Regions from separate parts of the Homo sapiens genome. Here region 2 is linked to region 1. The links come from fine-mapping of genetic effects on gene expression. A gene starts in region 1. The other region holds a variant in brackets. All regions are shown on one strand. Distances are between the middles of the regions. Region 1 holds the start of LEPR (leptin receptor). Region 2 overlaps LEPR (leptin receptor).

The links.
Region 2: its variant is fine-mapped to the expression of LEPR in fetal neocortex (Walker 2019, PIP 0.95).

The regions. Positions count from the first base shown.
Region 1 is chr1:65,418,279-65,423,659 of GRCh38, reverse strand. LEPR (leptin receptor) reads right to left here and starts at 2,992. Exons shown (of 20, transcript NM_002303.6): 1 at 2,920-2,992. LEPROT (leptin receptor overlapping transcript) reads right to left here and starts at 2,992. Exons shown (of 4, transcript NM_017526.5): 1 at 2,920-2,992. The coding sequence starts at 2,935. RefSeq lists enhancers at 2,489-2,538, 2,612-3,145, 3,146-3,678 and silencers at 2,909-3,408, 3,429-3,498.
Region 2 is chr1:65,479,359-65,484,739 of GRCh38, reverse strand. All of the region lies in intron 2 of LEPR (leptin receptor), which reads right to left. Among named protein-coding and RNA genes, the nearest start is that of LEPROT, 61 kb to the right of the region's middle. The variant A/GTGTGTA (reference allele first, on the strand shown) is at 2,617.

The DNA.
Region 1 (5,381 bases):
AGGGACAAAGAAACACTGTCAATTTTAACATATCTTTTTACATTTCCACTCTTTAATGGAAAATGCCCATGTGTGGATGGAAAGCAAATACCACATACTATTTCATTCAGATGATCTTTTCCCAGCAGGCTTTGCTCCTCTCCTCTGTGCCTGACCATCGGCAGTACCCCCTCCTCCATGAGGCCTGTCAAAGCTAGGTACTGCAGACCTCTTCCTTCTGTTCTGATACCAGTTTCTCAACGTTCACAACCATCTTTCTGTTTGATTCTTTTTGGTCTTTTTTTTCCTCTTTTTTCAGGAATCACATCCTCTGAATCTCTTAAAGTTGGAGTTGACCAAAAATCCAACCCCATCTCTCTTTTCACTCCACGCACTCCTGCTGAAAACTTATGTTCAACCCAAAGCTCCTACTACCACAAGGGCCCGGCCGCAACTGATGCTCCAGCCCAGAGTAGGTCCTAAAGAACTAGGCCTGTACTTCCACCTCCAGTCTGGACTTCTCTGCCTTGACCGCCAACAAGAACCTCAAATTCAACATGTGTAACACGTGTAAAACCAAACCACTATCCCTACACTTTAAAGGTCCTATCTTAGAGGACTGACACCATGATTGCATTCCACCTTCCAATGAATCAGTAGGTCAAGGTGACTCAATCTCCCAGACTTCTTAAACTCTCTGCTACAGCCCTGGTGCAGGCCCTTAACCTCTTATTCCTGCCTCTGTGACTCTTCCAATCCATCCTCTACACAGCAGACAGTGATCTTTCAACTATATATATCACCGCTGCCATCCCTTTGCGGTTGCTTCCACAGCCTACAAGTTGTTCTGGCACGGAGGCTCACCATCGCCTGACTCACTCCTAACTGCCTGTCCAGCCAGCTTCAACCCTCACCACTAAGTTCTGGTCTTACTAATGTAGCTTAAGTACCTGAAGAGAAGAAGGCATGTTGTTTCATAAGCCCTGCGCCATGTCACGTGCTGTCCTCCCCACTTGGGATATACTCCACCTTCACTCCATGCCTTGCCAAGGGAAGCCACATTGATCCCTTCAGATTCAGTTCAAGCATCGCCTCTTCTGTGAAAACAGTCCTTTCTCTGGAGCAGGGGAATCAATCCCACCTGCATCAGCTTCCTAGGGCTGCCGTTACAAAGTACCACAAACTGGATGGCTGAGAACAACAGAAATTTATCTTCTGACAGTTCTGGAGGCTGGACTTCTGAAATCAAGGTGTCAGCAGCGCCACCACACTCCCTCTGAAGGCTGTAGGGAAGCACCCTTCCTTGCCTCTTCCTAACACTCAGTGGTTGCCAGCATGGTTGCCAACAATCTTTGGTGCTCCTGACTTTGTAGCTGCATCACTCCAATTTCTGTCTCCGTCTTCCCATGGTATTCTCCCTGTATGTCTCTATGTCTAAATTCCCCTCTTCTTATAAGGACACCAGTCATTGGATTAGGGCCCACCTTAAACCAGTTATCATTTTAATTTGATTATATCTGCAAAGATACTACTTCCAAATAAGATCACATTCACAGGTACCAGGGAATTAGAGCTTGAACACATCTTTTTGGAGGACAAAATCCAACCCACCATCTGTTCTCCCACCGCATCTGAGCCCAACATAAACACTGACATAGTAATATAATTATTTCCAGCTCTGTCACCCACCAATAACTTCTCATTTATCTTTGTATCCTAAGTCTCTGGCATACAGTAGTTCCTCAATAAAAGTTGAACAATCTGTAAAATGCTTCCTTCCCTTAGTCCGTTTCCATTTCAGACTTCCTTTTTTTTCACTACATCACAATTTTCTAACACATTCACACATAAACGTGATCATGATTTGGTAGTTTCTGATCATGTGTAGTACTGAGACACTACTTTTCATCTGTTTTCGGCATTGGCTTCAAATGGATATATAACACAGTCGACACTCTCCAAGTAAACCATGTTTACTAAACTGATATTAAGTATAAAAGTCAGCCAGAAATAACGATAAAATGTCTGCTGCTAACAGCTCACATACTCGGATAAATTCATAGTGAACAGAGGCGTACTCGTATATATACTATCTACATGTTTATAGCAGATGTTAACTGGGGATATCTTTGGGTGCAAATTTCAAGGATGATATAAAAGCCAATATAAAAACAAGTCATGCTACTCTATTCGACAGATTAGAAATGGAATGTTTTCCTACCAAAATACAGGAAGCCTTGCAAAAAACCTTTTCCGTCTCGCATTGCTCTGAAGCCATACAGATAAGGGACGCGGTGTTTTTACCAACTGCCCCATGCAAAAAACACATACTACACACACACTGGTTTCTTCTCTGTCCATAAACAGAGAAAACACCGAAGAAAGCAGTATTAAAATTACACGTAATCTACTCTCCACGACTGCGAGAAACACCGTCTTTCTGGGTGCTTTCCATTGACACCCGCCCGCGGTCAACTCTGCCCAGTTGGAAAAATCATTAGGAAAAAGAGGATTAAGTTTCCCAATGCTAAGAACGCTGGAGACAAAGGGTCCTTTGTGGCAAATAGGAAACTGCGGAGGGGCAGAAAACCAGAAGAAAGGCGTTAGGGTGGCGTCAAGAAGTGGAAACCTTGTTTAAAAACTCAGGAGAGGTGGAGGGCGCCGCTCTCGCCGAGGGCTCAGGCTGGGGAGGGGTCTGGTGCCGCCACTGGAGAGCAGGAAGGCCAGCGGCCTTGCAAAAAGGGCCAAGGCTCCCCCGAAACGCCGCTCCACCCACACCCCAAGGGACGAAGGGAGCGGTCGATCGCCTCCCGAACCGGAGAGGCGGGAAGGGTGGTGAGGCCGTTCCCCAACGGCGCGCGGAAGGCGCAGCCCCAGGCTTGACCGGAACGGAGGTGGCAACCCCACCACACGACAAGCGAGCCGGGGACCGCGATGTACCTTTAACGCCCGCCATGTCTCCCGAACTGGGGCCGCGGCTGCTTCCGGCTTCCTGCCACGGCCCGGGCAGCCTGCCCAAGCCAGACCGGGAGTCGCCCCGCGGATCCCGAGCCCGCCCCGGCCACGCAGAGCCCCGCCCCCGCCGGTGCAGAACTCCGACCTTAGCTCGCAAACGCGGCGCCTGCTGCTCCAGACCCCGCCCCCACCACTCACAACCCCGCCCCCGCCGGTGCAGAACCCCGCCCCCAGCTCGCAGAGGCCGCGCCTGATAGTTCAGACCCGGCCTCGCTACTCAGAGCCCCGCCCCTGACAGTACAGAGCTCCTCCCCTACCTCGCGGAGGCAGCGCCTGCGGCTCCAGACCTCGCTACCGCTACTCGAAGCCCCGCCCCAGACAATGCAGAGCTCCTCCCCTAGCTCGCGGAGGCCTCCCCTGCTGGTCCCGCCCCAGCCCTCACCGGCCCAGAATTCCGCCCCCAACTCTCAGAGGCCGTCCCTGCTGGTCCCGACCCCGCCCCCGCCACCCAGAACTCCGCTCCTGCCAGTCTAGAACTCCGCCCCCAGCTCGCAGAGTCCATCTCCAGCCCTAAGGTCCCACCTGGTCCCACAGAGCTTTCCCAGAGTAACCCCAACCCAGTGCCCTGGGCCCTCCTCCTAGATCCTGAGCCCTCCAAGTAATCCTCAAGCCCGTTCAATGTGGGTTGGGACCTTGGCTCCGCCCCGACCGCGGGCCCAGAGTCTCTCCCCGGCCTCTCAGAACGCAGTGCACGCAGCGGGGGATCCTCCCTGAGCCTTCCTGAGAACGGAGATGTAGAAAGTGGGGAGAGGCAGGAGAGGGAAGGAGGGGAAAAGTTGCAATCGATGGGAGAGGGACACCGACTCACTAACCAGTGTTATGTTCCCTGAGCTCCCAAGTGCGTGCTAGTGTGCGAGTGTGTGCCTGTCTGCCTTCACATGACTGTGGCAGAGGAGAGGCGGGGTACCAGAGGACAGGCCCCTTAGGAAACACTCCTCATTAAGAACTTGATATTTGCATAGGTTTGCTTTGCTTAATAGCAACGCTTTACTGAAACTAGCGGGGTTTTTCTTTACTCCCTGGTTTATTTATAGAGACGAAGACCATATAAGCTTTTGTGTCCGAAGCTTTCATGAACCTTAAAAAAAAAAATAAAAAAAAAAAGCTATTATTTTTGTGCCTTGGGGCCTCAAAGTTTGCAGGTAACCAAGGCCAGTTTTTAGATCTCTGAGAGCCATTGTGTACTTATCTTACAGGAATGGAGAGTTCTGTTTTGGCAAAAGCAATCTAGAAGATCATTGAAACAGTCTGGTCCAAATGCTTCAACTTACATTTAAGGAAAGAGGTGCAGAAAGGATAGGACTTGCCTGTCACACAGCTCTTTGGAGGAGGTTGGATTCTGGGCCACTTCCCCTCATTCTAGCTGAGATCCACTCTACCTGATGGTGCCGTCCCTCTTCTCTTGCTTTTTCTCCGTTTTCAAAAGGACTGAAAGACAAAGGAATCTGTGGAAACCTAGCTTCCCCTGGCTACCTGAGAAGTATAAATTCTCACCACCATCATGTTTCATGATCCTTGCTCAGTTTACTTTTTCAAAATTGCACATTGAGCATGTTACTGTTTCAAGAAATGTCTATTTGTTGATTCAGTGGAGTATTTTTCTAGCTGTCAGTTTATTTTTCTAGCTCCTCTCATTTCTCCTCATAGACGGATGGCACACTCACTGAAAACAGCATTGTAATACCTGACTCACTGCTGATGCTTGGAGATCCAATACTACAGTACAGCACTTTTTACTTTGGAGCCTTCAATCTACTCAAGAGCATTGGCAGTGTATGCCACTTTGGTTTAAGGATTATTTTGAGCTGAAGGCAATTAGGAAGAAGCAAATAGGTACACGGTACTAGAAAAGCACTCTGCCCTCCCTCTATTTGCCAAAAAGCAGGATATAAGTTTACGAAGGTGTACCTCCTTCCTGCTCTACCAGGAAAGACAAAGATTAATCACCAGAGACAATTTTAGACCCCTGTCAGCCTGGAGACAACACAAGAAAAATCTACATGATAAACCTTAGTATTTGGCCTTCATCTGCAACTAGTCTCCCATATATTTGTTTTCCGACAATTTGCTGCCCCTAGAGACTCAAGATCCTTTATCTTGTCATTTCTTTAAAAATTTATTGTTCCTTGGCTAATATGCTGTATAAACCCAAGTTCTAACCAAATCTTTGAGTTGCTTATCTCTGAGTATTCCCATGTTACCTATATGAACAACGCACGTGTTGATAAACTTGCTTTACTTTTGTTCATCTGTCTTTGGCCAGTCTAATGCACAAGGACCCAGCCGGAGAACCTAAGATAGGTAGAGAAAAAGATTCTTCCTCCCCTACAAGAGCTTGTTTCCCTATCATATTATTTCTAATACCTATTAGAGCACTCAAGGGAACC
Region 2 (5,381 bases), 61 kb before region 1:
ATATGATCTCTTTGGGTGTGGAACAACTTTCCTTCCCCATGAGTTATTATTGAAGCCAGAGGCTTTTCAGTTGCATGAAATACTCAGGATTCTGATCTGATGGCACTATGCCTCACCCAGAGTCCTCCTGTACCTTCGGTGTTCTTTATCATCATTCTTTCCTAGTTCATATTGACAAGTCTCAGTGTTAAAAGAACAACTGATGACGCTCTCTTTGTACAGTCCACAATAGAATAAATATTGACCAGAATGTAGGAAAACCTTGGACGTGTGACAACACTGACTTGAAAGCAAATCATTAGTTTAAAAAACAAGTGTGTGATAAACGAACTCTTTTTTAAAAAAAAAAGTGTGGGAGGCATGTATATGTAACAAAATTCCCAAATGATGTTAGTAAATTAGATTTTAAAATCTAGAAGTAAAATATTTTGTTAATTCTATTAAATAAGAGCTTATAAGGAATTTCATGTCCCCTGATTACACAAATATTAAGCTCCTACTATGGGCCAAGTAATCTGGGAACTAGGGGTATCGCAATAGTAGCCTAGTGGACGGATACAAACACACAATAAAAAAGTGTAAAGGCCAGGCACAGTGACTGGTGCTTTTAATCCCAGCACTTTGGAAGGCCGAGGCAAGAGGATCTCTTGAAGCTAGGGGTTCGAGACCAGCCTGGGCAATGTAACAAGACCCTACCTCTACAAAAAATTTAAAATTACCCTGCAGTGATCTATGACTGTGCCACTGCACTCCAGCCTAGACAACAGAGCAAGACTTTATCTCAAAAAAAAAAGGAGAGAAGGGAAAAAATTAAAAATTTAAAATGTAAAGTCATGATGAAGGTTATAAAGAAAAAAAAACAAGGAAGAAGATAGTGACAAGTAGGATGGGTGGTCACTTTTCAGATAAAATTATCAGAGAAATCATCTTAAAAAGATGACCTTTCAGCAGGCACTAGAATGAATGAAGAGACAGAGCCATGTGGATATCTGGAGGATGGATATTCCGGTAAGAGGGAATGGCAAATATAAAAGAATAATCGAGAAATACTTCCAAGGACTGAGGATGGCAAGAGTGATGGGAAAGTAGTAACAAGTGAGATTAGAGAAGCAAGGGAGAACCAGATCATACATACCAAGTCCTGGTAGGGCATTTTAAGGACTTTGATTTTATAGCGGTGGCCTTGATATAAGTTAATATTCACAGGCTGATGCCACACAAGCCTAAGGTTGTTGTGATATCGTAACTCCCTCAAAAACTTAGGAGACAGGCCTTATTCCTTTAGGTTAATTCCATGCTGAATCTATCATTGTCTAAGGTTCTCATTGTCCTACATCAACAGTTTTTTGTAATATCAGGTTGTATTTTTCCAATCTGATAGGTAGGAAATGGTGATACATTGTCGTTTTAATTTTCATTTCCAAGATTACTAAGGAGTTTGAGAACATGTCCATGGTATTGTCTTTTTCTTATTGATTTGTAGAAAAATCAATATTGATTTGTATATCTGAATACTAATTATTTGCTAGATACACACACGCACACACACACAACATTCTCCAAGTCTGCTTTCTGCTGTCCTTACAGTGTCTCCTGATGAACAGAGGTTCTTAATGTGCTCAAATTTACCAATCTTTCTCTTTATGGTTTGTGCGCTTTGTGTTTTGTCTAAGCAATATTTCCCTGCCCCAAGTCACAGATACTCCCTTTGTAGACTTTTACCTTCCACATTTACTTTTTTTTTTTTTTTTTGAGACAGAGTCTCACTCTGTCACCCAGGCTGGAGTGTAGTGGCACAATCTCGGCTCACTGCAACCTCCACCTCCCAGGTTCAAGTAATTCTCCTGCCTCAGCCTCCCAAGTAGTTGGGATTACAGGTGTGTGCCACCACGCCTGGCTAATTTTTTTGTATCTTTAGTAGAGACAGGGTTTCACCATATTGGCCAAGCTGGTCTCGAACTCCTGACCTTGTGATACGCCTGCCTTGGCCTCCCAAAGTGCTGGGATTACAGGCTTGAGCCATCGCACCCAGCCTCACATTTACATTTTTAATAGACATGGAATTGATATCTATGTTCATGGTAAAGTGAACATCCAATTCCACTTCTTCCATGTAAGTAACCAATTATTTCAACCCCATATGTTGACCAATTCCCTCATTTCACTGGTTTTCAGCAATGCCACCTCTGTCACATACCAAGTTTGTTATGTTCCATTGCTCCCTTGGTCCCTTAGTCCTCATACCAGTCACTCACTCACTTCTTATTTAATAAGCTTAATAATAAAATTTGCTTCATCTTTTTCAGGACAATTTGGGTCATTCTCAGACCCTCAAGTCATCTATATAAATTTTAGAACCAGCTTTCAAGCTTTGTCATTTCAAGCTTTTTAGTACAACACAGATTGCCTTCAGATACATATTTTAATCCCATTGAATATATTGTTCCATTTGAGTAGATACAGCATCTCAAAATATTTTGTCTACAAATTCATACATATGATATATCTTCTATTAATTCTGGTATTTTTAATATCTTTTAATAAATTTAATAATTGTCTCCATTAAGGTCTTTATTTTTTCAGCTCATTCCCTGGTGTGTGTGTGTGTGTGTGTGT[A/GTGTGTA]TGTGTAAAATTGCCATTGTAAATTAAATTGTAACTTTTAATTTCAGCTCTTTTAGAGCTTTGTTGCTGTTGTATAGAAATACAATGTATTTGTATATTGATTTTTATCCAACAACTTATCTAAACTTTTTAATCAATTTTAGTAATGTATCTGTAGCTTGTTGTAGGTGTTCCATATTAAATCATCATATAAAATTTCTAAAATGCTAATTTCCTCTTTTTTCTTCTAATTCTTATACTCTTCTTTTTCTTGTTTTTGTTTAGGGTTTTAACTTTTCTTCTGGGGTGTTTTTTTTTTTTTAGTAACATTAGCAAATTACCTGAAAGATAATGTGTCTGAAGTTGTACCAAACTTGTACCAAAGTTGAAGTATATTTACATACCTGGAATAAATTGAACTTGATAATGATGTATTAATTCCTATACATATTGCTGTAATTACTTTTAAATAATATAAAGTCTGGGATTTTTGTACCTATGTCTTAAACATTGGTCTATAATTTACTTTTATTTATTATACCTATTCAATCCACTTTTAGAATGAAATGAGTTGGGCAACTTTTTCTTATCTTTTATTTTCTGATACAACTAAAGTAATATAGGGATTTTCTGTTCCTTGGAAAGTGTGTTTGGACTCACCTGTAAAACAACCACAGTCTCTATCTACTAGGAATGTGGTAGTAAAAGGAAAGGATTAATAATCATGTTATATTATTGGTGTATTTAATTTTCTATTTCACATTTATGCTGGGAAGTTGTGGGTTTTTTTTCCCCGAAACCCACTTTTCTAGACTGTTATGGGCTGAATCATATTCCTAGAAAATTCATATAAAGTCTTAATCCTCAATTCCTCGAATTGTGACTGTATTTAGAGATAGGGCCTTCAGAGAGGTGATTATGTTAAAATGAGGCTGTTAGGGTGGGCCCAAATCTAACCTGCCTGCTGTTGTTATAAGGAGATACATGTGACAGCAGGCATGCCTGCACACAGAAGAAAGACCACGTGAGGATACAGTAGGAAGGCAGTCAGTCATCTGCAAGCCAAGGAGAGAGGCCTCAGGGGAAACCAAACCTACCAACACCTTGATCTTAGACTTCTAGCCTCCAAAGCTGTGAGAAAATGCATTTCTGTTGCTTAAGCCACTCAGTCTATGGTATTTTGTTATAAGAGCTCTAGGAAACTAATATATACGTATTTATTGGAGTGTAAGCTAGTTGTTCAAAACATTTTTTTCTTTCTCTCTTTATCATGTATTTTGCTTATTCATATCTTTTCTTTTTTTCTTAACCTTGCTAGAGATTTTTCTGTCTTATTAAGAGTGAACCAGACCTCCTGGTTCAGATCCTGGCTCTGCTATTACTGGTAGTGTGAACTTTGACAAGCTACTCAACTTCTCTTAGCTTCTTTTTCCTCTTTTGTAAAATGGGGATAAATATCCTCATGTATATATCTTTAATATATAAATAAATAGGAAAAACAGAAAATCTACTCAAACCTATAAATTTCCTCTGCCTTAGCGACTTCCAGTAAATTTTGATATGAGATACTTTCGTTATCATTCACCTGTGGGTATTTTGTATTTTCCTTTTAAATTATCATTTACTGCAAGGGTTAACTGGCACCCTGTATTCCATTTTATTTTGTTTCCAGAGATAGGGAGTGTTTTGTCTCCCTTCCATTATATCTTAGCTTCACTCTAGTCCTTACTGGATACATCTGTCTCCATGCAGCTCCTGGTTCATAGACACCATATCTTCTTGTACTTTTCTGAGGATGCCAGACTATTTCTTAAATATTTTTCTGGATCCCAGACTAGCTGGTTTTCACATGTGTATTCTTCCTCAAAAACCATCTCGATACGGTTTTTCTTTGTTGCACAGTATCTTTTTTTTTTCTACCATAGGAATTGTTTTATTTTTCTTCTCTACTTCTTGAACAAGGCAAGACCTATTAAAGCTCCAGGTTTTCAATAGGTAGGTGGATGGAGTTTCTGTTGGTCCTGCTCATTGTCCATTGGTGTGGTGGTTGACTACTTTTCTCAAATCTAGAACTGAAGGGTAGATTGACAGGCACTGCTCGCATTCTAAACCCTAGATTCTAGCTGGCTTCCTTCTGGCCTGCTTCTGTTTTTCATGGGTTAACACGTTTCACGTTCCTTCCACCTGACAGAGTTGTTTTTTTGTTTGTTTGTTTGTTTGTTTTTTGTCTTGTTTTGTTTTGTTTTTAGTGAGCTAAACTGATTACATACCTACTAAGATCAAGTTTCTTTTTCAACTTAAACCTTCAGGACTGTATTCCTGGGAATTGCCTTCTTAGAAAGCAGTGAATGCTGCTGATTGTCTTCTACTTTCTGCCCAGTTGTTTTGGAGGATTTGTGGTTTAGTATCTACCTGGCATTAAGAAGATGACAGTTGAGTTTGATGACGGATATACAGAAGATCAGGAAATATGTACTCTGTCTTAGAAAGCACTTTTAGAAAGGCATACAGGGCTTCCTCAAAACCCATTTTCTTTATTGTCTGAACAAGTGAAGAAGTGTAAACTACTGCTCTACCTCTGGTCAGGTAGATGTCTCTGGAAGCGAAGCTGGTATATGCCAGATACGCTTTGGAAATTGCTTCATGATATGTCCTATCTCTATCATTTTCTTACATGTTACTCTGGGGACAAGTTTATTAACCTCTCTGCCTCTCTCGGTTTCCTCACCTGTACAAAGGGGAAGTGTACCTCTATGGGCTATTATAAGGCATAAAAGTCATAATCC